Linked DNA regions of Homo sapiens: all the other regions are linked to region 5. Evidence: fine-mapped expression QTL. A gene starts in region 5. Each other region holds a variant in brackets. All regions are shown on one strand. Distances are between the middles of the regions.

Region 1 (4,068 bases), 70 kb after region 5:
CCAAGATCATAAAGCTGATGTGTAAGTTTGAACGAGGGTGTGAGCATCCTCTTGTATATGTTGGTCCTTTGACAGGATGACTCCTATCACAAATATAAAACGGGACATTAGAAAAAAATGGAATGGGGTGAACAAAGAAGAGAAATCAAATAGTTTTCTAGCTTATCTTTTGGGGGCAGGTTTTCACACCTTTGTTCATCTATTTTGTTTTTAAAAGTATGGAATTTCCAGGATAGTCTTGCTCATATTCAAATGCAAATTAAAAAGGGTTGGGAAGGAAGCACTCCCAAGTCTAACACAAATAGTTTTTAAGATTATAACCTGTTGAGTATTTATCTACACAAAATACTCTCAAAAGTTATATAAGAGTAATATGGAATAACCAGCTTGGAGGATAAAATGTGAACAACACGAAAGTTTTATTTCTTTCAAATCCATTGTTTTACCACGTTCTATTTTTTCCTTTTTAGACATGAGGGTTAAGGTTAGAGTTCGATTACAACTGGGCTGTACACACATAACAACAAGGTAGCCCAACACCAGGCTTAGCAGAAGGAAAAGGCTAACCCAGAATTAGATGCTACTTGGGTAATGAGAGGCAGACTGATTTCATATGTTAATAAGCTAGGCATGCTTTTATTTCTATAAATTTAACATAAAGGGCTTCTCTACAAAGAAATTCAATGTACATTACCTATCTGTTAAGAAAGCACAGATGAGATTCTTTGCATGTTTGGAAATTTCTGCATCTTCAGGGAAACACAGTGAATTCTTATGATCCATAATTTTGCTATATGTTCCTACAAGTGAATCCGCATAAAATGGAGTATCCCCTAAAATTTCAAGAAAGAAGATACTGAATGTAACAGAGAATGCAAAGGAAACACTTTTCACCTAGTACTTAAATATGTTAAGTTTAAATTTGTCACATGCAGGGAAGAACAAATATTCTACGGGCACAGAGTCCCAGTCAAAACAACAGACATATTGTTATATTCTAAATCAAAGAATATATTTAAAATTTAACACCACCAATGATCCCTCATCCCTTAAAAGCAAAATAAAATCAATGATAACTCCCGAATTTGTTGAGTTTTTTTTTTTTTTAATTTAAGAGAGGAAATGTTTTACTGAATAGTCCAAGAGAAAGAGTTCCTATGTGGGGTCAGATCAGTCAGGGTCCTTTAATGCTTGGGCTGGATCAGCATTTTGAAATCATTCTCTAGAGATATGTTATACAACACAGTTGCCACTAGCTATAGGTGGCAATTTAAAGTTAAAATGAATTAAATAAAATGAAAAACACAATTCCCTAGTTATACTAGCCACATTTTAAGTCATGTTGTAACCAATGGTCACCACACTGGACAGCACAGATTTAAATCATTTACATCATGATAGGCCAGACAGGGCTGCTGCAAGAGTTAAACCAGCTCTATTATTTTACATAAGAGGAAGTCAGGCCCAGAGAGACAGACTGTGACTAGCTTAAAATGACATATAGCTAGAGTTGAAAGAGGGAAGAAATGGTCTCCCCATGCAGTGTTCTTACTAATGACTGTAATAGATGCACTGAAGCAAGTATAAAGATGGAAAATGTTGAAGGCACCATTTTGGCCAGTACTCAGCTAAAGCCACAAGTGTTACAGGCTCTGCCAGTACACCTAC[A/G]CTACAAGTAACTTTAATGAAAACCTGACTTTCCCAAATCAGCCAATCCAAAACTTCAAAAAATGTCTTCAGGTAGTTATTTTTGTTTGTGTTCAAAGAAAGGTGGAGGGAAGTGATGAATTCAAGATTTTATTTTTTATTTTTTAATTTATTTTTTAACTTTTTAAACTTTCTTATGTTAAAAATTTTTTATTTATTTTAATTTTACTCTTTTATTATTACTTTTTTAGACACAGTATCTCATATGTTCCCCAGGCTGGCCTTGAGCTCCTGGGCTCAAGTGATCTTCCTGCCTCAGCCTCCTGAAGAGCTGAGCTAGCACCACCCAGCCTGGCAGTCGTGAGAATTTAAATGGCCTCTTCATCAAATAAGCCAAATTACTTCCTCTAAAGTACCTTATTTTGTAAATCCCTAGGAAAGCGTGTCTAGGCAAAAAAGAGAATATACTCTATTTTCAAAAGATTACAAGACACAACCTAGGCCAGAGATGGGAGAACGGACAGCTACATGGGACCATATGATGCGTACAAACAGACTCACTTTGAAAGGCCCAAAATAAAGTAGGTCATACTATGACATGAAACAAAGCATAACAAGATCAATGCTACATACACAAGACAGTCATCAAGAGAAAACAATTTATGCCACAAAAAAGTTCAAGAGTAATTATTATTTAAATTTGCAATTTACCGAAAATTTCTGATTTTTTAGCAATAACCATAGTCTTTTATCATACAGGTTTTACACTACCATTTCTTTTAGGCTCATCTTTTAGAAAATATATTCTCTAATTCTAAAAAGTATATTTTTAACTCTAATTAATTCCATATTATGTTATTAGCCTTGACATACTTGCCTTGGAAAGTGGATTTAACTACATTTTCAACCCTCATCCCCATGCCACGTCACTGGCTTCCTTAGCCAGAAGGTACTAGTATTTTTATGACCCCAGTACTTACAAATGGGAAACATTAGGAATGAAATCTATGATGTAAAGAAAGTTTTGAAATACTTCAGCCTTTCAAATTTTGATTTGGTCATAAAAAAGAAGAAATAACTAAATCTGTCTCTGAGTTTTCTAAAACTGAAATGTTATTACAAAATATATTTATCTTGATAATCAAATGGTAAACACTGTATTTATAATTTATTTCACGAGAATTACAAACAATATATATGCAAGAAGTAAATGGAAGGAATACAGTTGTTTACGAAATCAATTATGTAATTACATAAACTAAAGAGATTTTTACTTCTCTACTACTATTGGGACAAATATTAAGTCTTATATTTAAATATTATAACAAATATGATTGATCAAGAAAATCTTAGAGGGCTAGGTGTGGTGGTTCATGCCTAAAATCCCAGCACTTTGGGAGGCTGAGGTGGGAGTAACACTTGAGGTCAGGAGTTTGAAACTAGCCTGGGCAACATGATGAGACCACTCCCTACAAAAAATGAGAAAAATCAGCCGGGTTTAGTGGCATGTGCCTGTAATCCTAGCTACTCGGGAGGCAAAATGGGATGATCACTTGAGCCTAGAAGGTCAAGGCTGCAGTGAGCCACATTCATGCCACTGCACTCCAGCCTGGGCAACAGAGCGAGACCCTGCCTCAGAAAAAAAAAAAAAAAAAAAAAAGAAGGAAAATCTTAGAATGAAGGCCCACTGAAGCTGTAAACTTGCTTCTTGTTCTAATATTTTAATTCAAAAATGTCTGATATATTTTTAATTCTTTTTACATTCTACTTATTCTATTTAATCACCATGCCAGTATCAGGCTTGGTATTAATTTTCCAATTAACAGTCTGCCCTATCAGATACTACTAATTCAAAGTTTCCAGAAATCTAATTCTTCCCTACGACAAAGGCAATTAATTTCCTTATATTCTCAAATTCTTGACTGAAATAAAGTATTATAAGAAGCATTTTGAAAAAAGAAGTTAAAATATTTACTTACCCACTAGCATCTCATAAAGGAAAACACCTACAGACCACCAATCACATTCTCGCCCATAGAAACCATCACCCCCTTGTGATTTCAGAACCTCAGGTGATATATAATCCGGTGTTCCAACTGCTGTATCACAATGTACCATGCCTGTCTGCATGAACAGGAGAGATAAAGAAAAAACAGTTCAGTGTAAAAACACACACTTATAAATGCAATGAATCCATTTATTACTAGATATACAATGATTACATATTGCTAACCAACAGAACTTCACTGCTGACATGACTTCAGGATACAGAGAATAAATACACTGGAAAATGCATTAAAATGCCTAAATTATGGGAGATAGGAATAAACTGTGAACTCTAAAATACAGGAGGCTTCCTCAATGAAAGAAGAAAAAAGTTTGGTAAAATGGAGATTCCATGCAAATCAACAACTTTTCTTT
Region 2 (4,068 bases), 210 kb after region 5:
GACAATGAGGTATTAATTAGCAACAGTTCCCAAATCAGGGATTTAATTATTTGGCATTCAGACAGTCAGAAAGGAAATTGAGAGTAAGGAAATAAGCAAAAAATGTCCTATGTGAATAGGCAGAGAGGCAGAGCAGATGTCATAAAGCCTGTGCACTGCATTTTAGCCTTTTGCTCAAGTCTTTATCTTCTAGACCCAATCCTAACAAACCAATGATGTATTACGAAAAAGCAGACAAAACGCATGGCGTAGTGATGCTGGGACACTACCAGAAATAATAGGGTGTGAGAGGAGTGGATGCCATAGAATTAATGCAGAAGAAAAACAGATTGGAGCCCTCTAGCGGGGGGGCAAATAGTCCTCTAGTCCTCCGAGCTTCCACCATCTCCACCTCCATGGACAGCACTACATGGTGCCCAGCATTGACAATCACAGAGATGCCCGAATTATCAGGAACATGTTAAACTACCTGCTAGATCCTCTCAGAAGGCAGCCACGTGTAGGCTGGGTGCAGTGGCTCATGCCTGTAATCCCAGTACTTCGGGAGGCTGTGGCAGGTGGATCACTTGAGCCTAGGACTTTGAGACCAGCCTTGACAACATGGTGAAACCCTCTCTCTACAAAAAATACAAAAATTAGCTCGGCATGGTAGTACGTGCTTATGGTCTCAGCTACTCAAGAGGCTGAGGTGGGAGGATCACCTGAGCCTGGGAGGCAGAGGTTGCAGTGAGCCGTGATCACACCACTGCACTTCAGCCTGGAGCCTGGGTGACAGAGCAAGACCCTGTCTCAAGGAAAAAAAAAAGGGGGGCAGGGCAGCCAAGTGTATATAAGCTATTTAAAAACAAAAACAAAGTTTTAAAAATTATGTGTTTGTTCAAAAGGTTAAGATTTTCCCCAAGATATTCTCACAGTTTGTGCCCCTTCTTCTCAGGTCTTTGTTCATTTTTTGTGTGTTTTTGTGATGGAGTCTCGTTCTGTCACCCAGGCTGGAGTGCAGTGGCATGATCTCAGCTCACTGCAACCTCTGCCTCCTGGGTTCAAGTGATTCTTCTGCCTCAGCCTCCCCAGTAGCTGGGACTACAGTTGTGTGCCACCATGTCTAGCTAATTTTTCTATTTTCAGTAGAGACAGGGTTTCGCCATGTTGGCCAGGCTGGTCTTGAACTCCTGACCTCAAGTGATCCACCTGCCTTGGCCTCCCAGAGTGCTGGGATTACCGGCGTGAGCCACCGCACCCGACCTACAGGTCTTTGTTCAAATGTCACTTCCTGAACCCCTTGATTCAAATTGCAACCCCACCCCACTCCTAGCCACCCCACGCCCAAGCCCCTTTTCTTACCATATTTTTCTTTTTTCTTTTCTTTTTCTTTTTTTTTTTTTGAGATGGAGTCTCGCTCTGTCACCCAGGCTGGATTACAGTGGCATGATCCCGGCTCACTGCAAGCTCCGTCTCCCGGGTTCACGCCATTCTCCTGCCTCAGCCTCCCAAGTAGATGGGACCACAGGCACCCGCCACCACGCCTGGCTATTTTTTTTTTTTTTTTGTATTTTTTTAGTAGAGACGGGGTTTCACCATTTTAGCCAGGCTGGTCTCGATCTCTTGACCTCGTGATCCACCCACCTCAGCCTCCCAAAGTGCTGGGATTACAGGCGTGAGCCACCGCACCTGGCCTAACCATATTTTTTTATACCACTTATCACCTAATATAATATATAACCGAGTGGTTATTATCCATGTCTAGCATCCCCCAAAAATGTAAACTCCATGAGAGTAGACGTTGGTCTGTCTGTTTAGTTTCCTGCTGTGTTATGGGGAAACTGTGCGTCTGGCACCTATAGGCCTCCATTATTATTATGATGATGATTTATTTATTTATTTTTGAGATGGAGTCTTGCTCTGCCGCCCAGGCTGGAGTGCAGTGGCGCGATCTCGGCTCACTGCAAGTTCCGCCTCCCAGGTTCACACCATTCTCCTGCCTCAGCCTCCCAAGTAGCTGGGACTACAGTCTCCCACCACCACGCCCCGCTAATGTTTTGTATTTTTAGTAGAGACGGGGTTTCACCG[C/T]GTTAGCCAGGATGGTCTTGATCTCCTGACCTTGTGATCTGCCCTCCTCAGCCTCCCAAAGTGCTGGGATTACAGGCGTGAGTCACGGCGCCTGGCTATTACTATTATTATTATTTTTTTGAGAGAAAGTCTCACTCTGTCACCCAGGCTGGAGTGCAGTGGCGCGTCCTTGGCTCACTGCAACCTCCACCTCCCGGGTTCAAGTGATTCTTGTGCCTCAGCCTCCCAAGTAGCTAGGATTACAGGTGCTTGCCACTCTGCCTGGCTGATTTTTGTATTTTTAGTAGAGTCGGGGTTTCACCACGTTGGGCAGGCTGGTCTCAAACTCCTGACCTCAGGTGATCCACCCGCCTTGGCCTTCCAGAGTGCTGGGATTACAGGTGTGAGCCACCGCACCTGGCCAGGCGTTCGTTGTTGGATGAAAGCATGAGTGAATAAATTTAGTTATTTGGAAGACATATTTACATTGTTAAAAGTCATTCTATGGAAATACTGGCTAAGGGCACAACAATTATATGAGAATTTTTTAACACAGGGCATATTAATTCATTGGCAAGTATTTATCAAGGTCACACTCTATGCAGATGCTGTGCATTGGAGATTTGCTTATTTTGTTTCCACCCACACTTTTGAGTTCCTAAAGCCTTTACCAAGTATTCCACATGCAGAGTCACTGACACACTACACATCCATGCACACATGCACGTGCACACACACAGACACACACACAGACCTGACACTCTGGTTCCTTCTTATAGCCATGCTTCGATCTTATCAGCTCTCTTATGTAAAAGTTTGACAAGTCTGGTCTATGTCGCCTTCAGAAAATTCTTAGAAATAGGAAATGATTATATTGATTAGAAATGATAATGTTTTCCCAGGAGTGAGCCTAGAATCATTATTTAACCACCGTTTATTGTAATGTTGGAGGCAGACATTGGATCTTGAGGAGTACACTGGGCATAGAGCAAAAACTTGAGTCCTAGCCCTGGATCCATCATTTAAGAACTGAATGATTCTGGCAAGTGACTTAACCACAAATAGCTAGTTCAGAGGTCTTTTTTTTTTTTTTACAGGACTTTGTAAGTTATAAAGTGCTACACAATTTTAAGGAATCATCATTATTTTGTTGAAAAGTAAAATAATGTATGACACAGCACTAGAATTAGGGATGAGATCTTGGTGATTCATGACTCTTGATATGCATGGGTATCAGTCTTGCTATCTCAGACAACTTCTGATGGAATTTGCTGTGCAACCTTCACATTTACGACCTCAGTTTCATCATGTGCAAAACAAGGTTTCTACCTAGTTCCAGCATGCTGGGATGATTTCTCTGACTGATTACAACTGACAGGATCAGTAAGTCTGTAGCAGGAATTGGGATGGATTCCCGTTGGCCCTGAAGCCTGGCGTGATGTTTCTCTAAGCGTGAAACTAAACTTTCTTAATTCATGCCCTCATTCATTCATTCAATAAATATTTATTGAATATCAGTTGGTGGCAGAGGCTGTACTAGATGTTGGGAATAACAAACGGAAGAAGACAAAAGTCCCAGTACTATCAGTGATCAAAGTTGAGTCAGAGAGCAGATTTTTTTTTTTTTTTTTTTTTTTTTGAGGCGGAGTTTCGCTCTGTTGCCCAGGCTGGAGTACAGTGGCGCAATCTCGACTCACTGCAAGCTCCGCCTCCCGGGTTCATGCCGTTCTCCTGCCTCAGCCTCCCGAGTAGCTGGGACTGCAGGCGCATGCCACCACACCAGGCTAATTTTTTTGTATTTTTAGTAGAGACGGGGTTTCACCGTGTTGGCCAGGATGGTCTCGATCTCCTGACCTCGTGATCCGCCCACCTCGGCCCCCCAAAGTGCTGGGATTACAGGCGTGAGCCACCGCGGGTGTACACACTAGGAGCCGTGAGGAGAGAGGAGCAAGGTTCAGGGGCCCACAGAGGCAGGCTTGCTCACTTTGTCTAGGAGAAACAGATGGGGCTTTGCACGGAGAA
Region 3 (4,068 bases), 33 kb after region 5:
TCAAAACTCCTGAGCACAGTGTACATGGAGCTTTTCAGTTGGGTTCAGACTTTCTCTCTAGTGTCACATCATCTTTTACCACTCCCTACCCTTGCCTTCTCCCAACGCCAAGCCAACACAAAATTACAAATACATAAGTAATTCTGATGACTTTGTACCTCTGCACATGACATTTTGCTTGGAACTGATTTTCCCTTATTTGTCTGCTTGTAAAATTATCCATCCTCCATTGTTTGAGATCTTTCTTAATGTCCTCAGGCAGAATTCTCCATGCTTCCCTCGTTTCCCCAAGCGCTCTGTTCATCCCTATATTATAAACAGCATTTTACATAGTACTGTAATTGCCTGTTGCTTGACTGTCTCCACCATTAACAGGGATATAGTTCAGGCCTGCGAAACTTATTGTCAAAGATGCTTTGGAAAGAGTGCATTTAATTTGGAGTTCTACCAGCAGTCCACAAAAGTACCCATTTCGTTTCTTAACCCGTGCCAGTTTGGCAGGTGAAAAATGGTTTTATGTTATAGTTTTAATTTAATGCTAATTTCTTAATACAGTAGTCCCCCCATATCCTTGTCTTCACTTTCCATGGTTTCAAGTTACCAGTGGTGAACCACAGTCTGAAAACATTAAATAGAAAAGCTCAAAACAACTTAGAAGTTTTAAACTGCCCAACGTTGTAAACAGCGTGATGACATCTTGTGCCATCCCACTCTGTCCTGCCTGGGATGTGAGTCATCCCTTTGTCCAGCATATCCATGCTTGTTAGTCACTTACTAATGGTCTTCATTATCAGATTTTAAAAAATTGTATGTGTACGGTCCAGTACTATTCGTGATTCCAGGCATCCACTGGGGGTCTTGGACTACATATCCCTTGAGATAAAGGGGGACTACTGTAATCAGGCTGATCACTTTTTTTTACATTTAACAGCTATTTCCATAATAATGCCTGCATGCGCCTCATTAATTTTGTATGGGGATGAGGCAATCTTTTTTCTCAATGATTTATAAGAACTTTTCGTATGTGAAGATACTAACTCATCTTTCTCATATATTTTGGAAATACATGGTGTTTTTTAAATTTACAAGGCTTTACTTTTGGGGTAGTTGATCTTTGGCTTTGTTTTCTTTGCTTTTATTATTTGGAAGTTCTTCCCCAATTCAAGATCAGGTATATATTCACCTATGGATTTATTTTTGACACTTCAAATTGTATATAACTTCATTATTTTCCCAAGTAGACTGTTAATTCTTTAACATTTAGAAATGAGGAAGAGCAAAGATAAGATAATAATGACACAATAGCTACTTCCTCCTTTAAGTTTTAACTGTGCTGCCATGTTTTACACTTCTTAAAACTCGGTAAGTGAGCATTTGTTACATTTTTGCTTTATACTTTTCTGCATGCATTAAATACTGCGTTAAAAAAAATCTTTAAAAGAAAAATAATTAAAGAGAAATACCCTCTAGCCAAACTGGTATATAATTTTTTTTTTTTTTTTTTTTTTTGTGTGACGGAGTCTCGCTCTGTTGCCTAGGTTGGAGTGCAGTGGTGCGATCTCGGCTTACTGCAACCTCCACCTCCTGGGTTCAAGCAATTCTCTGCCTCAGCCTCCCCAGTAGCTGGGATTACAGGCGCCTGACACCACGCCTGGCTAATTTTTGTATTTTTAGTAGAGATGGGGTTTCACCATCTTGGCCAGGCTTGTCTTGAACTCCTGACCTCAGGTGATCCACCTGCCTTGGCCTCCCAAAGTGCTGGGATTACAGGTGTGAGCCACCGCGCCCAGCCCAGACTGGTATATTTTTATCTTGCATTGAAACAAATTAGGACTCCCCAAATTGTCTTCATCAAAAATTAGCATTTTATTCACAAATTTCCTACTTTTCCAGTATGGCATTTTAATTTTAATTCAAAAGTACCAAGAAAACATTCCTGTAGAATAGCATTTCTATACATTATTTTTATGAACTGTCAATTAATTTCTAGTCTTATTTTATTTTTATTTTTTTATTTTTATTTTTTGAGACGGAGTCTCACTGTCGCCCAGGCTGGAGTGCAGTGGCGTGATCT[C/T]GGCTCACTACAAGCTCCGCCTCCCGGGTTCACGCCATTCTCCTGCCTCAGCCTCCCGAGTAGCTGGGACTACAAGTGCCTGCCACCACGCCCAGCTAATTTTTTGTATTTTTTAGTAGAGATGGGGTTTCACTGTGTTAGCCAGGATGGTCTCGATCTCCTGACCACGTGATCCACCTGCCTCGGCCTCCCAAAGTGCTAATTTTGTAGGGTGCATGTCTGTAATCCCAACTACCCAGAAGGCTGAGGCAGGAGAATTGCTTGAACCTGGAAGGTGGAGGGTTAGGGTGAACCGAGATCACGCCACTACACTCCAGCCTGGGTGACAGAGTGAGACGTCATGTCACAAAAAAAAAGAAAAAAGAAGAGAAAAAGATGTAATGATGTAATGGCAGATGACCACAAAGAAAGACACAGAGGAAAAGTTACCAAAAATGGTTAAGTGAACATTTATGGGTTCACTTTATATTTGATGTATCTAACAAAGCCAAACTTTGTTTTAAGAAGGATACCATGTCAAATTAGTTCAACTAAAGCTAGATTGACTAATGCTAAGACTAATATTAAACAAACTCAAATGAACAGCTAGATGTTAGATCACTGCTGAGACACACCAGCAATTCTGTGCCTCTGTTTTCTTGGATGACCCTTTACCATTTCCACCCATTTGTATACTGAATGGGCTTTAGTCCAGTAGAATGTTAAAAACCATCCAGCCTGAGGCTTGATTCCTCCCTGGAACCATGCTACTCAATGAGATTTACAATTTGCCTCTCTGATTGGTTCTTCTTCTAATACATCTTCCAAGGAAAAGGTCTTTAACTGTTTAGTGCTATTTATGATCTCTCACACTTTCAAATAATGTCTTTAGAGAACAAAATATCCTCAGTTCCTTCGCTTGCTACATAATACTTTCAAATGACATACTGCAACCTCTGTTATTCTCATCTATATACCATTCAATTTGTATAAGTGACTCTTAAAATGTGACATTCAAAATGGAATACTGGCCAGGCGTGGTGGCTCATGCCTGTAATCCTAGCACTTTGGGAGGCCGAGGTGGGAGGATTGCTTAAGGCCAGGCATTTGAGACCAGCCTGGGCAACATAGGGAGACCCCCATCTCTACAGAAAATAAAAACAAAAAAAAATTAGCCAGGTGTCATGGTGCATGTATGTGGTCCCACCTACTCTGGGAGGCTGAGGTGGGAGAATAATCAGTTGGGCCTGGGAGGTCAAGGCTGCAGTGAGTCATGATCGTGCCATTGCACTCCAGCCTGGGCAACAGAGTGAGACCCTGTCTCAATAATAATAATAATAATAATAAAATGCAGGTTGATTGATTCATGTAAGAGATACAGACACAATGCTAGGAGTACATGAAACAATGGAGACTCAAATGCCAAAAACAATGGAAATAATGTTGCAGATGTACAACAAAATCCAAATTATATTATAAATGTGACCACCTTTATGTTTAGAATTTCAAAGAATGTATTAAATGAATTTTTTCACAAAATATACACTACACATTTTACAGTCAATTTTGATATTAGTTTTATTTACATGCAGATATGAGGGAAAGAAATCCTTACTACTTACCGTTGCTATGACAAAATGTGTTTTTTAAAAAAATCAATGAAGAATGATTCACAGGGCAAGGCCAGAAGTTTTTTAAAAAAAAAAAAAAAAGTAACAAAAATCAAAAGTAAATGTACTCTCAAATAGACCATAATGCTGATTTGGACTGGGAAAGGAAGGTATTTGTAAGTCAGTGTACATAAAAACAGCCTGTTACATAACTGGGAGCGTGCCTCATAAACTAATTCCATATATGTTATCGTATGTAGTGAAATCATTAATGTGTCAAATAGCACAAAAGAAAAAAATGTATCAAAAGGATATTTGGAGTTATTATAGTTCTAGATCTAGACAAACCCCTTCTGGAGTCTTAATCAAAAACAAATATAACAATACCTATTCTATTCCATAGGA
Region 4 (4,068 bases), 170 kb after region 5:
GAAAGAAAAGAATGATTAAAATAGCCCCTATGGAGAATAAAAGAATTGCAATGCAGCCCTGACAGCTCTTTCAGGGACTAGAGACCATGAATTTGCAGTACCACTAATCTGGGTAATTGTGTGTGATTTTTATCCATCACTGCTCAACAAATGCTTTTTTTGTTGGCCAAAGAGACAAACTGATCCAGAACTTAGGTTTTGCCAGATACATACGATGAAAATTCATGAGGACAAGGACACTGAGGATTCTGGCAAGAAGTTTAAAGTGATGGAAAATGGGTTCCTGCCTGCTAGTAAAGGAACCATTTAGAGATGTCAAGGAACTACAGATCTCAAAAGTTTACAGTCAGAGCCAGGACAGTGTTTTAAATTTAAGACCTCAAAGGTAAAGCCAATTTTCAGGTAATGGTGAGGTCCAGAGTAGCTCCATGGGATTAAGTGAATGAATTAAGCGAAAAGAAAGACAACTGGAGATGATGAAATTGGGAAACTATAAAGCCAGAGTCCTGGGCCCTCTGTTCACATAAACTCTAAATTCACCACGAATGGTGGCAAAGCCTTATGGGGAAAGATTGTGAGCCACATGCCTGTGTCTTCAATGAGAAAGAGAACATGGCCAAGAAAGAGGCAGAGGGGGAGTCTCATTCTGTCACCCAGGCTAGAGTGCAATGGTATAATCTCAGCTCACTGAAATCTCCACCTCCCCAGCTCAAGCAATCCTTCCACCTCAGACTCTCAAGAAGCTGGGACTACAGGTGCACACCACCACACTTGGCTAATTTTTGTATTTTTTGTAGAGACAGGGTTTCACTGTGTTGCCCAGGCTGGTCTCCAACTCCTGGGCTCAAGCTATCTGCCCACCTTGGCCTCCCAAAGCACTGGGATTAGAGGTGTGAGCCACCAAGCCCGGCCAACTGTCCGTTTTTAAAGGGGCATATGTTACTTTTGTAATTTAAAAAATGAAGTTTGTTTTATTTTGTTTTTGTTTTTGTGATAAGCTGACAAAACAGAGAAGGAGACAGAGCAATCCAGGTACACACAAGGGCAAAGAGTATAGAGAACATGGTATATTCAGATTATCAGTGAAAAGAAGACTGCCTCTATCCCTGGTCCTGCTCACTCTCTTCCCTTCCACATCTCTGATATGAAACTTCTATCCCCAAAGTCCATCATCTATGAGCCATAAACCCCACCAAGACTTTGTCTTACTATTCTCTTAGATTGTAAAGATCCATCCAAAACCCCAATGCGACTAATTACACGCAGTGAATTAAGAACACAAAAATGCCAACAATTTTCATTCATTTATTTAACACTTAGTGAAGCTAATATGTGCCAAATAATATGCTACATTTGGGGGGGGAAACAGGCTAATATCAGAGGGTTGATTTTGTATGCACATACATTGAGAGACACAAACAATATAGGCTGTTATACACATAGTTTTTCAACTGTCTGTAAAAAAGCTAAAGTTCTGTACAGTTTACAGAACACTAGCACATATAGTTAGCTTCTCACTGTATTCTTCACAACTCCTTGAAGGCAAATAGTCCTATAAATTACTCACAATCAAGAAGATAATCACTAGAACATCTCATTAATTAACACCAGTCTTAGCTTTTCTGACTCCAAATCCAATGTTCTTTCCACTATACTACTCTCTCTTTTAAAAATACACTTGAAACTATTCACAACAGCAAAGACTTGGAACCAACCCAAATGTCCAACAATGACAGACTGGATTAAGAAAATGTGGCACATATACACCATGGAATACTATGCAGCCATAAAAAATGATGAGCTCATGTCCTTTGTACAGACATGGATGAAATTGGAAATCATCATTCTCAGTAAACTATCGCAAGGACAAAAAACCAAACACCACATGTTCTCACTCATAGATGGGAACTGAACAATGAGAACACATGGACACAGGAAGGGGAACATCACACTCTGGGGACTGTTGTGGGGTGAGGGGAGGGGGGAGGGATAGCATTAGGAGATATACCTAATGCTAAATGACGAGTTAATGGGTGCAGCACACCAGCATGGCACATGTATACATATGTAACTAACCTGCACACTGTGCACATGTACCCTAAAACTTAAAGTATAATAATAATTTTTTTAAAAATGCAAAAAAAAGAAA[C/CA]AAAAAAAAATACACTTGAAATTAAAAATTCAAGTCATTTTCCTTCATTTTTTGCCCATCTTCACTACCTTGGTGGGGAAACTCTTAAGAAAAAAATTCATTTTAACCTTCATATGTTAATGAGATCAAACAGGGATCCTCTTTATGTACTTTGGTGGAATTTTATTAATAGAAAATCATTTGAAATAAGGCATTGTTCAGATTTTTAAACTTTTATTTCACAGATCTGTTGTAACTAGAGTCAAACTGAGTAGTTCTGTTTAAAAGAAGGGGAAAGCACATTAAAACACTACACCAAATATTTACATTATATCATCCAGAAAGACAAAACTTCCCTATACTAAAAGCTTGTAACAATCCCATCTCCAAAAAAAAAAAAAACCGTAACTTCTTAAAAATTTATTCACTGTTATATTTTATGACTTCCCTCAGAAGAAAATTTTACAAGCCAATTTTGTACTAGAGTTTCCTTTTATTAGTTCTAAATTTAGTTTTATTTGTATCATCTGCTGTTCTCCTATTATGGAAATGTCTTAAAAATGGAAAACAATCTGTTTTCCAGCATTCAAAATTTATAACTTTACAGCCTCCCCATTTTTACAAAAAAAAAAAATTGCTTGCAGCAGAAATTGTTTTACAAAACTATCAGCAAAATCCTTTAGGTGCGTTTTCTCGTTTTTGTGATTAAATTCTTTAAATGTTCTCTTGCTTTTGTGATTAAATTCTTCTTTAACCTGAATATAACAACATAAACATTATCCATATTCTAATTTTAAATGTTGCAACCATGAGTTGCATATTCCGTTTAAGCTACAGCAAGAAATAATGCCTGAGAATATTTTTAGCATGAACATGTCATAACTGACTCATGAAGTCTCAAATTAATTGCATTTTTTTCAAATATTTAGAAATGCTGGAGCATCTTGTACAACACTGAGGTATTATGGAATTAGGAATTCTCATCACCAGATTGTAAAATGTTTCTAACTGGAAAAATACTTCCAATAAAAATGTTTCTAAATCATCCATAACACTCTTCTAAAAATAACTGCAGAAATATATTCAGTCAGTGAAAGAAGCATCACCTAGTTTCAGATTTCACATTTCTAATTATCTTTCTATTCAGCAATTATTTGAAAACAATATTTCAAAAGATAAAATGTCATAAATCTTTAGGGCTTTAAAGATACTTTTATTATATGTCACTCTAGAGCCCCACGTTATTGAATTGTGCCTTGGCCACAGGGTATGTAGTTTTGTTAGCCATGAGATAAAAATCCCACAAACTATAACTCTAAAACAACAAAGTTATCTGAAAAAGGTGATACATTTTTCAAAATCATACTAATATTTTCATATTTAATATACAAAATACTTTTACAGGGATTTCAACATACAAAAACACATTTTTCACTAGATCTTGTAGGCATCAAAGCTCATGACAACTGTGCTAATACACTTTCTTTTCCTTTTGGTTTTAAAACGAAAAACTTTTAAGAACCCAAGAAGCGGAGGCTGCAGTGAGCCGATATCTCACCACTGTACTCTAGCCTGGGTGACAGAGACTGCGTCTCAAAAAAGTCTCAAAAAAAGGAGAAGGGGGAGGAAGGAGGAAGACAAGGGAGGAGGGAAGATGAGGAGGGAGGAGGGAGGAGGAGGAGGGAGGAGGAGGAGGGAGGGAAGAGGAGGAGAGAGGAGGGAGGAGAGAGGAGGAAGGGGAGGAGGAGGGGGAGGAAGAGGGAGGAGGAGGGGGAGGAAGAGGGAGGAGGAGGGAGGAAGAGGAATGAGGAGGAGGGAGGAGGAAGAGAGAGGAGGAGGGAGGAGGAGAGGAGGAGGGAGGAAGGGGGGAGGGAGGAGGGAGGAGGGAGGAGGAGGGGGAGGAGAAGGAAAGAGGAGGAGGGAGGAAGGAGCAGAAAGAA
Region 5 (4,068 bases):
GCACTCCAGCCTGGGCGACAAGAGTGAAACTCCGTCTCAAAAAAAAAAAAAAGCTCTTCTCTATTTTCTTCTTCAAAAAATTTATATACATATTATTTATTTATTTTTGAGACAGGGTCTGGCTCTGTCTCCCAGGCTAGAGTGAAGTGGCGCGATCTCGACTCACTGCAACCTCCGCCTCCTGGGTTCAAGCCATCCTCCTGTCTCAGCCTCCCGAGTAGCTGGGACCACAGGCACGCGCCACCACGCTCGGCTAATTTTTGTATTTTTAGTAGAGGCGGGGGTTTCCCTATGTTGCTCAGGCTGGTCTTGAACTCCTGGCCTCAAGCAATCTTCCCGCTTCGCGGGGTCAATAACGATCAGTATCGATCTAGCCAGGGCAGGTCCAAGCCGTTTCCTTTAAGGGTTCCCTTCTGAACATCCTTTTCTCATTTAGACTTGGGAGGCAGGACTCAGCACCTGTTTTTTTTTTTCCATAGGCGGAGGTGATGGGCCGGTGAGGCTGGAGAGAAAGAGCCTCGGCCAGAATTCCGAACTCCGAAGCTGACCCAGCTCCCGTCCCTCACACTTCCCGGCTGAGATTTATGGCACAAAACCAGGGATCGTGGATTCTGGCATTGCATTTTGGTGCTTTTTTGCCTGCTTCATAACCAGGCCCTAATACACAGGCGATTTTCAGAGGTTGGAAAATGCGTCCTTCCCTTTCCCTCAGTTTGTGGCTTAGACGGCCACGTCCAAGTTACTTTATCAGGAGAAATCCTTAAGAAACAGTTTCACTGTGAAGTGCTCAAGTTCAAGGCTTCCGGTGGCCCCTCAGGGCCCACGCCGCTAGGAGGGAAGCCTTCAGTCCCAGGCTGGAGACAGGCCGCGTGCTCTGAAAGGGCACAAATGAGGCGACCCTGGGGCTCTGGTCCCAGAAAGTCTCTCCAGCCTGGTTCCCCACCTGTAAGTCGGGAGGGTGCACTCAGCCCTTAAGCAGGAGGCTTTAACTCCTGAAATGCTTAGTGAGAGAAACTAAAACACTTGCAGGGAGGGAAAAATCCCGGCAGAATGGCCCATCCCCCGGGGCCATTTGCCTCTCGGTCCACCCAACCCGTGGAAAAGCCGGACTTCCAGGGCGGCTCCCGGCGGCGGCTAAACTATCGGGTGGCAAGAACGCGGAAATGCGAAGCAGCTGCTGGTGGAGCCCGCAGGCCAGGGTGGGACTGTCGCCCGGGGCGGGGCTAGGAGGGGAGGGGCGGGGCGAGGAGGGGCGGGGCGAGGCGAGGTTGGCCACGGGATTGGGCTAGGTGAGGCCGACCGGGAGGGGGCGAATCTGGGGGCGGGGCGAGATGAGGGTAGTCCGAGGACTGAGCGAGCCCGGGCGGGCCCGTAGGCGAGGCGAGATGAGGCTGGCCAGGGGGCGGGGCGGGCCCGGGCGGGAGGGGCGGGGCGGGGCGGGCCCGGGCGGGAGGGGCGGGGCGGGCCCGGGGGCGGGGTGCGTCCAGGGGAGGGGCGGAGCGAGGCGGGTCCGGGGCCTGGCGGCGCGCGGAGGGGCGGGCCCTGGCCGGGTGGTCCCGGGCGGATCCCGGGAAGGCGGAAGGCTTCGGCAGAGCTGCGCCGCCGAGGCTGAGCGGTCCCTTCTCGCTGCGGCCGCCCAGGTGCCCGCGCCCGTGGCGCTATGGAGGCGGCGCTGCTGGGGCTGTGTAACTGGAGCACGCTGGGCGTGTGCGCCGCGCTGAAGCTGCCGCAGATCTCCGCTGTGCTAGCGGCGCGCAGCGCGCGGGGCCTCAGCCTTCCGAGTTTACTTCTGGAGCTGGCAGGGTAAGGCCCGGGGCGGCCGGGGCTGCCTCCTGCCCCCTCGCAGCTGCTGCCGGCTGGGAGCCCAGGAGAGCCTCGGCTCGAAGTAGGGCGGGGATGATCCCCGCGCGCCGGCGTCGCAGCTGGGCGGCCGAGGGTGAACTAGGGAGCCTAGGGGCTCGGGGTGCTCTTCCCACGGCCACCCGCCACCCGCGTACATTGTTTCTCACCAAGCCCCGCGTGGCACGAATTGATTGCGCACGCCCATTTTACAGATGAGAAAACAGACCCAGCGGAGGCAGCCCTTGGTGCGCTAGTGACAAAACCTGCTGGCCCTGAGCAAGGCCATTTGCACCTCGAGGCTGTCATATTCATTGTCCCTAAACTCACCACGCACCGTCAACCTCGTTCTCGGGCCTCGGTTTCCTCACCTGTGAAATAAGGGGTTGAACTAAGAATGTATGAATCTCTTCTCTTCTCCCGGTGATTGGTGGGGAATCTTTCCTGGTTATTTAATGAGATTCCTTGGGAGAGGGTCTTAAGACAATTGCATTTCTTGTAGAAAGAAGTTTCCTTAGTCATCTGTAAGGAAGTTGGAGAGTCTCTGCAGTTGGGAAGGGGTGACGGAAAGGTCGTTAAATCCTTGATTCTGAGGCAGCTTCTAAGGCTTTCCTATTCAAAGTATTCATCATGCCAGAGCGCCAAACTTTTGGGGTATCATTTTTGAGCCCCAACAATAGGAAAACACATACCTCAACCTAGTGGTCTCGCCCCTTCCCCCTGGCCAGGCCAGGCCTTCCCCTTTGCCCCCCGCCATCACCCAGTGGGGTCTGAAGCCTGGTCCTCCACACAAGCCTTCCTGGTGGGCGGGGTGGGGGGTGCGGCATACAGGATGGGAAGAAGCCAAGGGGTGCGGGGGAGAAAGAGGAGACCTCAGGTGTGGGAGGGTGAGGGGTCCCACTCAGGCTTTGGACCCCGCGCCGGCCCTATGGAGCCCGGCCCTGGGCACAGTCATCCAATAGGGGGCTTTGAGGGGAAATTTTTGGGAAAGGCTTGCAGTGGGAGGGACTGTGACCTCTTCCAGGCTTGTGAGTGACTCTACCCTGCGGGGTGGGGAGGGGGGGGTCCCAGGCTGGATGGCAGGGTTGAGAGGCACCCAGGGGAGGTGGGCAGCATGCGTTTCAGGTTGGTGCCACCACCAGGCTGGGAGCAGAGAGGCTGGAGCGATGAGGTTGTGGCAAAGGACACAGGCTGGAAGTGGCTGTGGTGACTGTTCAGGTGGGAGAGGGGACAAGGGCATGAAAGCCAGGAGTGGGATTTGGCCTCGGCCCCTTGCTAGGTCCCTGAGCTGGGGAAGCTGAAGCTGGACCCATGAAGGAAAAGAAGCCAGGCTGTCTGTAGAGTCTATAGATTCCCTCCTGCCGCCAGCCCCTAGGCCTGCATTTCCACCACTTTTGCAGCATTGCTTGAAAAATGCAAACCCTCAGAGATACGCAGGTGAGGGCTCCTATTAGATCTGCCAGCTGTCACCTCTCCCAGCTCACCTTAGTGAAAGCTAGACCTCTGGCAGTGGAAGGATCTTCCTGGGCATGGGAGCTCAAGGGTTGGGTGGGGCAGCAGCTTGCTGCCATCCCTGCTGGCCTGTCTAAGGGTCTTGCAGTTGATCACGTGCAGGTAAAGGGGGCTCTGTCGGGGCTGGTGCACCAGCTCTGCAGCCTCCAAGCCAGGGCCAGGGCCAGGCACACAGACTTCTGTAAAATGGGCTTGGCTGTGTCAGGACCCATCCTCCTGGCCCTCCTGTCTCCCTGCCTGCCTCCCTCATGCCCTTCCCAGCCTTGCCTGGGAGGCCCACCTGGGGCTGGCCATGCTTGCCAGCTGGGCCCCCGGGCCCCTGACCAGATCAGGCAGCAGCCGGAGTTAGAGCAGAAGGAACCCCAGGGCTGTCGCAGTCAGCCACCTGGAGGGCACGGGCCCTCTTTGGGTCTCCATTTGAGCAAACTAAGAGCCTGGTTTTGAGAGCACTGAGTCAATTGGAGCATGAAGTGTGTCTTAATAATGCCAGAAAAGCCTTTTTAGTGTGGCTTGGTGTGAAGGGCAGGAGCCTCTGCCCAGGGACCTGCCTCTGCCACCCAGGGGCATTCCTTGTAGCTGGAGCCTTCCCCCTCGCAAGTTCCCAACCTTGCTGCTTCTCCTGCCTCCAGGGCTCTGCTGGGCTCTGCCTCCCTGCTCTCTGCAGCCAGGAGCCTCCTGGAGCACAAGATTCATCCAACCTGCCCTGCCTGCAGCCTT
Region 6 (4,068 bases), 140 kb after region 5:
TATACATGCATTTAACATTTTATTCCTCACAGCATATAAGTTAATACTATTGTCATACCTACATTAGTAGGCACAGAAACTGAAGCTTAAAGGTTAAAAGGTTAAAAAATGTGTCCAAGCCAGAATAGCTTATATGTAACAGAATTAAAATTTTATGATGCTCTTATAAACAATATTGAACTTAAAAGTTAATAAAATAATAAACTTAATTAGTAAAATTATTCCTCTAAAAGAATACTAAATAACAAACAAGTTTTAAAGTCAAGACAACCAAAGAAACAGTTAGTTACAGAGCATAGGAAGCATATTTCTGTGTATCTGCTGTACAGATTAGTGACCAGGAAATGTTATTTAAATGAATTTGTAACACATTTCCTCTGTTTGCTATTTCAACTCCAAACACAAATACATAACTAAAATAGTTGATATGGTTTGGATTTTTGTGTCCCTGTCCAAATCTCATGTCAAATTGTAATCCCCAATGTTGGAGGAGGGGCTTGGTGGGAGGTGATTGGATCACAGGGTAAGACTTTTCCCTGTTGTCATGATAGTGAGTGAGTACTCAGGAGATCTGGTTTAGAAGTGTGTAGCACCTCCCCCTTCTCCCTCTTCCTCCTTTCCCAGCCATGTAAGATATGCCTGCTTCCCTTTGCTTTCTGTCATGATTATAAGTTTCCTGAGGCCTCTCCAGCCACGCTTCCTGTACAGCCTAGGGAACTGTGAGTCAGTTAAACCTCTTTTCTTTATAAATTACCCAGTCTCAGGGTAATGAGCCAACAAATACACAGATGTGTTTTATAAAGAGATAATAAAGTAAAGGAAGTCTAGAAGTTAAGAAACCTGGGTTACATCATCACGGTTCTGCCATTTAGTGGCAACTTAAATTGAGGACGGCTAAGTCAACTTAATTGAGGACTGAGAATTTAGCAACTCAGAGGTTAGCAGTAACTTTGAGGAGAAAAACTTAATAGAGGAAAAGATAAAATTGTGTGACCCTACACAAGTAATTTCACCCAACTTCTAGGGCCCTCGTTTGTAAAAAAGAGTTCATAGCCTATAAAATCATTCTGGTGAGCAGTTCTTTAAAAATTGGCTATTTAAATAGTTAAAGCAAGGCCTGGCATAGGGAAAGAAACTTTCCTAGGGCAAAAGACAGGAGCAATAGGAATGTTTTTATGACTTTTCCTTGAGCCTCAGGCTCTAACATGGCTCAGCATGGCAAGATAGGACCAGTATTATTAATTTTTCCTTTTTGCCTCACATGCCAATATGGCTTGGCACAGTACTCTTCCTGATTTTGCCTTTCTTTAAAATTTTGAGTTTGATATTCTGTTCATAGTGAGTCTTTGCATTAATTTTTAAAATATTACATTAAAATATCTTGATTACTGTGGCTTTTTAGGGTTCTCCCTCAAATTTTGTTCCAAGTGCCTGAATGGCTTCACCCTAACCTCAGCCGTGGTCCTAAAAAGAGAATGAACCTTTACAATGAGAGAGGCATTAACGATAGCATATTCTGATTTTAAAAGAACGTACGGGCCAGGCGCGGTGGCTCACACCTGTAATCCCAGCACTCTGGGAGGCCGAGGCGGGAGGATCGTGAGGTCAGGAGATCGAGACCATCCTGGCTAACACAGTGAAACTTGTCTCTACTAAAAATACAAAAAATTAGCCAGGCATGGTGGCGGGCGCCTGTAGTCCCAGCTACTTGGAAGGCTGAGGCAGGAGAATGGCGTGAACCCGGGAGGTGGAGCTTGCAGTGAGCCGAGATCGTGCCACTGCACTCCAGCCTGGGTGACAGAGTGAGACTCCC[G/A]TCTCAAAAAAAAATTTAAAAAAAAGTAAGACAAAGAGAGAGAGAAAGAAAAGAAAGGAAAGAAAGGAAAGAGCAAAAAATCACATTATTGATTTGATCAAGGTTTTAGAAGAATTAAATGTAAAGTTGGTAATTGTTCTAATGGTGATAGTGCTCTGTGCTGATAATAAAGCAGCTGCTATTGCAGAGTTCTTGGATAGACATGATGCCAAACACTTTATATAACATCTCCTTATTTAATTTTCCTAACAGACTGTGGAATTATATGGTGTTAATTATATGGTGTTAATTATATGGTGGAATTATATGGTGTTAATTATACAGTCTTAATATCACCATATTTTTTAGTTGAAATTTGGCTTGGAGAACTTAAACCATTTCCCAGAACTGCACAGCTTAGAAGCATTAAGGTTGGTATTGGGCCCAATGCTGCTTTGAATAATTATTGGTATTTTTTAAATTAAATTCTGATTTTTTTCTTCTAAAATATTAAGTTGATGGGAAGATATGAATCAAATTGCATTCATAATGTAATACATTGTTTTATTATTTTATTTGTGTAATACATAATGTAACATATTGTTTAGAAACACATGAATAAAATTAAGATCAAATTATATTTGTATTACTATTTTTCTTTTTTGAGACAGAGCCTTGCTCTGTTGCCCAGGCTGGAGTGCAGTGCCATGATGTCAGCTCACCGCAACCTCCACCTCCACCTCCTCCTCCACCTCAAGTGATTCTTGTGTCTCAGCCTCCAGAGGAGCTGGGACTACAGGCGCATACCACTATGCCCGGCTACTTTTTTGTATTTTTAGTAGAGACGGGGTTTCATCATGTTGCCCAGGTTGGTCTCGAACTCCTGAACTCAGGTGATCCACCCGCCTTGGCCTCCCAAAGTGCTAGGATTACAGGTGTGAGCCACTGTGCCCAGCCTGCATTACTAGATTTCTTATGGCTTATAAATCAACAATTTTATCTTTTCCTCTATTAAAAAAAGCTTCTCTCCTCAAAAATTACATACAATGTTACCTGAAACTCCCTATAAAACAGAAAACAGGCAATTTACACACCTATTATAAAATATTAGAAAAAGTAATGCATCATCTGACTGAATCCTATTCTTAATTTAATATTGGTATTCAACTGAGAAACTACTGGCCAGATAAAATTAGAGTTGTTATTCTGATTGTAGGCAAGTTAGACTTTTTAAAAAGTATTTTCCATATTTGAAACTTGTACAGTTAAGTATCACAGATAGACTTTAGGGCAAAAAAAAAAAATCTCATCCAGGATATAACACATACATGCAAGAAAAATACCCCCAAAAGGCCTGCTGGTTTTATGTTTTATTAATTTTCCTATTTGGTGCTCACAGTACACAGAATAATTATATGGCTTCAATATTTTGATATTCATAATATCGTTCAGCAGCAGTACTTTAAATACACTGATGGCAGGATCTGTTTATATAGTGCTCCATTACAGATACTCCAGGGAAGACCAGACTACCTTAAGAGAAGGCCTGGCATGATGGCTCACGCCTGTAATCCCAACTATTTGGGAGGCCAAGGAGGGTGGATCACCTGAGGTCAGGAGTTTGACACCTGCCTGGCCAACATGGTGAAACCCCGTCTCTACTAAAAATACAAAGATTAGCCAGGCGTGGTGGTACACGCCTGTAATCCCAGCTACTTGGAAGGCCGAGGCAGGACAATCACTTAAACCCAAGAGGCGGAGCTTGCAGTGAGCCGAGATCGCGCCACTGCACTCCAGCCTGGGTGACAGAGCGAGATTCCATCTCAAAAAACAAAAGAGAGAGAGAGAGAGAGAGAGAGGAGAGAGAGAGAGAGGAGAGAGAGAGAGAGAGAGAGAGAGAGAGAGAGAGAGAGAGAGAGAAAACAAAGGGTCTCAAAGCAGAATAACCTACACTTCATGGACATTTTGGAGCTGAAGGGGCAAGATGGTGGAGGAACAACTTTTCCTATAAAGTCTATCTAGTAACTAAGAATGCTGGAGATGACAATGGCCAACTAAATTACAAAGCAACATTTGTCTGTAAAATATTTGTGGATATACAGTTAAGTAGATAGATAGCTAAGCTACTCTGAATATAGAGCTATTCCAGTATTTCTTAAATTTTGAAAAGATACAACAAACAGATAAAGTTTTGTTTATTAGAAGGTAAAACAGTTTGGTCATATTCACACTTAATGACAAGAAACAGTCTTCCCAGCCTGTTTCTAGTCAATTGT
Region 7 (4,068 bases), 470 kb after region 5:
AGCCTCTTAAAGGGATGAGCTGGATTTTGTTAGGCATGAAATCAGGTGGTGATGAATTAACCTGCCATACCTAGTACAGAACTGAGGTCACCACCTCCCTGTATAAGGAAGGGAGGAATGCAAAACCTGTGAATTGAAGAGTGTTGCTCAGGAAGTGCTAAGTGACAATGACGACACCCTTGCTGATTTGTCACCATTGGAATATTCTGAAGGCTGTGGTTAATAGAGGATAAAAGACGTGTATGTTTACTTATTAATTTGGAGTTATCAAAACGAGTACACGTGTTCACCTCTCCTCCCCCGGTGTCTTGATTTTTCCCTCCCTCAGGGATCCCCAACATCCATGGTGTGCTGGCGCTGCAGTGTACCGGGGCCATTGCGATTATAAACTTAGACTAGAAAAATTTGGTAAATGCCGTGAGAAAGGAAATGACTGTGTTAGTCCGTTTCACGCTGCTGATAAAGACATACCTGAGACTGGGTAATTTATAAAGAAAAAGAGGCTTAATTGACTCACAGTTCCACGTGGCTGGGGAGGCTTCACAATCGTGGTGGAAGGTGAAAGGCACGTCTTATATAGCAGCAGGCAAGAGAGAGTGAGAGCCCAGCAAAAGGGGAAACCCCTTAGAAAACCATTGCATCTCGTGAAAATTATTCAGTACCATGAGAACAGTATTAGGGAAACTGCCCCCATGATTCAGTTATCTCCCATCAGGTCCCTCCCACAACATGTAAGAATTATGGGAGCTACAATTCAAGGTAGATTTGGGTGGGGACACAGACAAACCATATCAGTGACCCACCAGTCTCCATTTCAAACCAACAACTTTATTGTCCTTGCTCTCAGAATAGATCCCTTGCACTGAGGATCCTTCTCGTAGGCCAGTCTCTAATGAAGGCTGAGTGTTAAAATCTTAATCGGCGAGGTCATTTGAAAAACAAGCAGGGGCCGGGTGTGGTGGCTCACGCCTGTAATCTCAGCACTTTGGGAGGCTGAGGTGGGTGGATCACCTGAGGTCAGGAGTTCAAGACCAGCCTGGCTAACATGGCAAAACCCCGTCTCTACAAAAAATGCAAAAATTAGCCAGGTTTGGTGGCGTGCACCTGTAATCCCAGCTACTCAGGAGACTGAGGCAGGAGAATCACTTGAACCTGCGAGGCGGAGGTTGCAGTGAGCTGAGATTGTGCCACTGTACTCCAGCCTGAGCGACAGAGCAAGACCTTGTCTCCAAAAAACAAACAAAAACAGAAAAACAAGGGGCAGTTCATCTGCATTCAGAGCTGGCATGTTAAGTTGGCAATCGATTTAAATTGTTGTATAGCGGATCTTTACATAGGTGCTGATGAAATATTTTTAGTCTACAGTAAGACATGATATGGACAGTGCCTTAATTAGTTTATTCCACTGACACTTTGTGGCCCTTCGTTGTCTCCTTTGACCAGCTGTCACGTCAGGGCCCAGGGAGGTGAGAGGCAGTCCTCCCCAACCAGACAGAATCCTGTTGTCTGGTCATTTGAGCATTTTTGGTTTCTGTTTGAGCAGGCAGGGGATAATGTTTGCTTTGCTCCCTGCTGCTTTTTAATCCTGGGGAATTTGGTGCAGACAGAGGGATGTCCCGGAAGCCGGAGGACCTTTATGTGCGGCGTCAGACGGCACGGATGAGACTGTCCAAGTACGCAGCGTACAACACTTACCACCACTGTGAGCAGTGCCACCAGTACATGGGCTTCCACCCCCGCTACCAGGTAGGCCCCAGCAGTTCCCCACCAGGCATTTCACCTTGGCTCACATTGTCC[G/A]TTCCCCTGCTCTCTCACGCTTTCATTCCAGAGTGGGAGATAGAGAGTTCTGGAAGCCCTGGCTTCCTGGTCTGCTTGCATCCTCTGTTCCCTTCAATTGTCTGTGAAATGATTGCTGGAACTAGAGCACCACGGTTCTCCTGGGGTTGTGTGTTTATCAGTGGCCAAGTTACCCGACCGTGGAGGTGGTCGTCATCTTTAGGTCCCAATGCTTTCAGAAGTTAGTCCAATGCAACAGATGCTCACCAGGTGCTTATTCTGTACCAGGCACTGGGGCTGCAGAGCTGAATCAACTCTGTCCCCATCCTCCATGCTCAGTCTAGAAGGGAGATGTGCACATAAGCAAAACCTAACGATATGAAGCAGGCAAAAGGAGTACTATGGTTGAGGCACAGAAATCCATTGATAAGAGGAGGAATTTGCATTTATTGAGCACCTACTGCATGCCAGGCAATGTGCCTAGGCACTTTTTATATATCAGTCTCTCCCAACCTTTTATGCAATAGAAAATATTTATCCTGGACACATAGAAATGGATAAGGCTCCTGACCCAGGGCTCTGGCTGCCTCAGGCCCTGGTGGGTCACCTGAAGCCACGCCTGCAAGCCACCCAAGGTGTGCTGGATGGGAGCTGTCCTATCTAGTGTCCTATTTACTTCACACTAAAATTTCATTGTCCCTGTTTTATAAATGAGGATCCTGTTTGGGTCGGGAGCGGAAGAGAGAAGATTTGGAAGAATTAATAAGAATTTGCCAAGGTGCCAAGAATTAATAAGATGAAGGGAGAGGGACAGCATGTGTGGGAGAGGGGAGGTGGGGTTTCCAGGGGATGGGAAGTGATGTGGGTTGGGTGTTTCTGGAACCCAGACTTTGGGGTGGGTACACTCAGCCACGAAACTCGGAGGGCAGGCAGAGGCCAGACCACAAAATGCCTGGTGGGCACTGTGGGGAGGAACGAGGACTCTCTCAGTGGGAACTCCAAGTGGAGCCCAGTGTGGGCAGAGCTGTGTTTAGACTGGTCTCTTAGTCCCATGGAGGTGTATGGAGGGCCTGTGAGGCTGGTTATTTATAAACAGGGCAGAGGATTTATTTTACATTGAATATTTCTTTTCATTTCAGACCCGAGCAAGGGAGAGAGGGGTGGAGGGAGAGAGCCAGAGTTGGTGGGAGCTAGTCAGATGCCTGGCTGGGGAGCAGAGGCATGTAGGGTAGCTGATGTCCTGGGCTGCTTTCAGAAAGGCCTGAGGCAAGAGCACTGGCCTCTCTTTCCATCCCTTTTACAGAGGGAAACAGCACCTGTCTGCCTGGCCTTGAGCTTGGCTGCCGGGGACGCAGCACTCATTGTTTGAGTGTGCAATTGTACTGTAGATGAAAGAAAGAACATATGAGCAATTTTTTAAGGGTCAAAATAATCAGTAATCCCATTTGTTCCAGATAAACTCTCCTAACATTTTGTTTCTTGGAGATGTAGTTTTTCTTTTAAGGCAAACAAAAACATACATGAAAACACGTCCTTGATTTTGAAATGTAGGGAACTGAAAGGGACTGAAGGGTGTCAGTCCCTACTCATCCCTGTCAGTGTCAGGAGTGGGTAGTGCCATCAGGACCTCGGGCTGCATCAACAGACACCAGAGTGCAGAGGAGGAGGAGAGGCAGCCGGCTGGGCTGTGCCTGGCCTGTGTTCTCAGGGGTGCGCAGGTCTGGGGGCCACAGTGGAAGAGGAGCATGCCTGGGACGGTGAGGGGGCTTGAAACCAGCTGGTGCGGGTGCAGAGGCCGCGTGGCCCCCTGGCTGCCCTCTCCATGTGGCCTGCACCTGCTCGTTCTGTTTTCTCTTCCTTTGCCTCCCAAGGCTCCCTTGACCTTTTTTATGAAACTGCCTCAGTGTGTCCTCCTTAACTGCCTCCCCGAGTCAAAATCCCTTTCTCCCTCATCTCTGCTCCCAAAGAAAGGGCTCTGTGGGTCTAGAAGAGCCATGGCAGAGATTAAAGCAGTGTGTGCTCGTCTGCCTCCTTCCCTGCAGACCCTGGATGCATGCATAGCACATGCTAGGAGGGGATGTCAGTAGGAAGGGCCGTGGGTCGGTGGGGTCGTAAGAGGACGTTCAAGCTGAGGGCAAAGCTGCGCTGGAGGTCACACCCAGAGCAGCACGTGCACAGATGTGGGGTGTGAGGCTCCTGGGAAGTGGAGGCTGGAGGAGGTGACTAAGGGCGCAGCCAGACTTGGTGACTTGGTGACAGAGCCCAAGGTCTCTGAATGTCAGTTTTCACACC

Direction of the effects. Alleles are on the strand shown, and positions count from the first base shown. SD is a standard deviation of normalised expression in the study named. Not every link is listed here.
For the expression in tibial artery of the gene that starts at base 1,581 in region 5, allele G in region 6 goes with a lower level than allele A (moderate effect, 0.50 SD a copy in GTEx).

Evidence for each region.
Region 1: its variant is fine-mapped to the expression of SLC66A3 in whole blood (TOPMed, PIP above 0.99).
Region 2: its variant is fine-mapped to the expression of SLC66A3 in lung (TOPMed, PIP 0.97).
Region 3: its variant is fine-mapped to the expression of SLC66A3 in monocytes (TOPMed, PIP above 0.99). The same link has a PIP of 0.9 or more in T cells.
Region 4: its variant is fine-mapped to the expression of SLC66A3 in whole blood (INTERVAL, PIP above 0.99).
Region 6: its variant is fine-mapped to the expression of SLC66A3 in tibial artery (GTEx, PIP 0.93).
Region 7: its variant is fine-mapped to the expression of SLC66A3 in lung (TOPMed, PIP above 0.99).

The regions. Positions count from the first base shown.
Region 1 is chr2:11,223,628-11,227,695 of GRCh38, forward strand. It overlaps ROCK2 (Rho associated coiled-coil containing protein kinase 2), which reads right to left. Exons shown (of 33, transcript NM_004850.5): 6 at 3,627-3,771; 7 at 695-833. Among named protein-coding and RNA genes, the nearest start is that of SLC66A3, 70 kb to the left of the region's middle. The variant A/G (reference allele first, on the strand shown) is at 1,669.
Region 2 is chr2:11,359,709-11,363,776 of GRCh38, forward strand. All of the region lies in intron 2 of PPIAP60 (peptidylprolyl isomerase A pseudogene 60), which reads left to right. Among named protein-coding and RNA genes, the nearest start is that of PPIAP60, 10 kb to the left of the region's middle. The variant C/T (reference allele first, on the strand shown) is at 2,068.
Region 3 is chr2:11,186,618-11,190,685 of GRCh38, forward strand. All of the region lies in intron 32 of ROCK2 (Rho associated coiled-coil containing protein kinase 2), which reads right to left. Among named protein-coding and RNA genes, the nearest start is that of SLC66A3, 33 kb to the left of the region's middle. The variant C/T (reference allele first, on the strand shown) is at 2,075.
Region 4 is chr2:11,326,951-11,331,018 of GRCh38, forward strand. All of the region lies in intron 1 of ROCK2 (Rho associated coiled-coil containing protein kinase 2), which reads right to left. Among named protein-coding and RNA genes, the nearest start is that of ROCK2, 16 kb to the right of the region's middle. The variant C/CA (reference allele first, on the strand shown) is at 2,150.
Region 5 is chr2:11,153,887-11,157,954 of GRCh38, forward strand. SLC66A3 (solute carrier family 66 member 3) reads left to right here and starts at 1,581. Exons shown (of 7, transcript NM_152391.5): 1 at 1,581-1,803. The coding sequence starts at 1,661. It also overlaps a transcript of CIMIP5 not described here. RefSeq lists silencers at 1,168-1,647, 1,758-1,997.
Region 6 is chr2:11,292,340-11,296,407 of GRCh38, forward strand. The region is part of intron 1 of ROCK2 (Rho associated coiled-coil containing protein kinase 2); the gene reads right to left. Among named protein-coding and RNA genes, the nearest start is that of ROCK2, 50 kb to the right of the region's middle. The variant G/A (reference allele first, on the strand shown) is at 1,814.
Region 7 is chr2:11,625,359-11,629,426 of GRCh38, forward strand. It overlaps GREB1 (growth regulating estrogen receptor binding 1), which reads left to right. Exons shown (of 33, transcript NM_014668.4): 25 at 1,604-1,746. Among named protein-coding and RNA genes, the nearest start is that of NTSR2, 43 kb to the right of the region's middle. The variant G/A (reference allele first, on the strand shown) is at 1,798.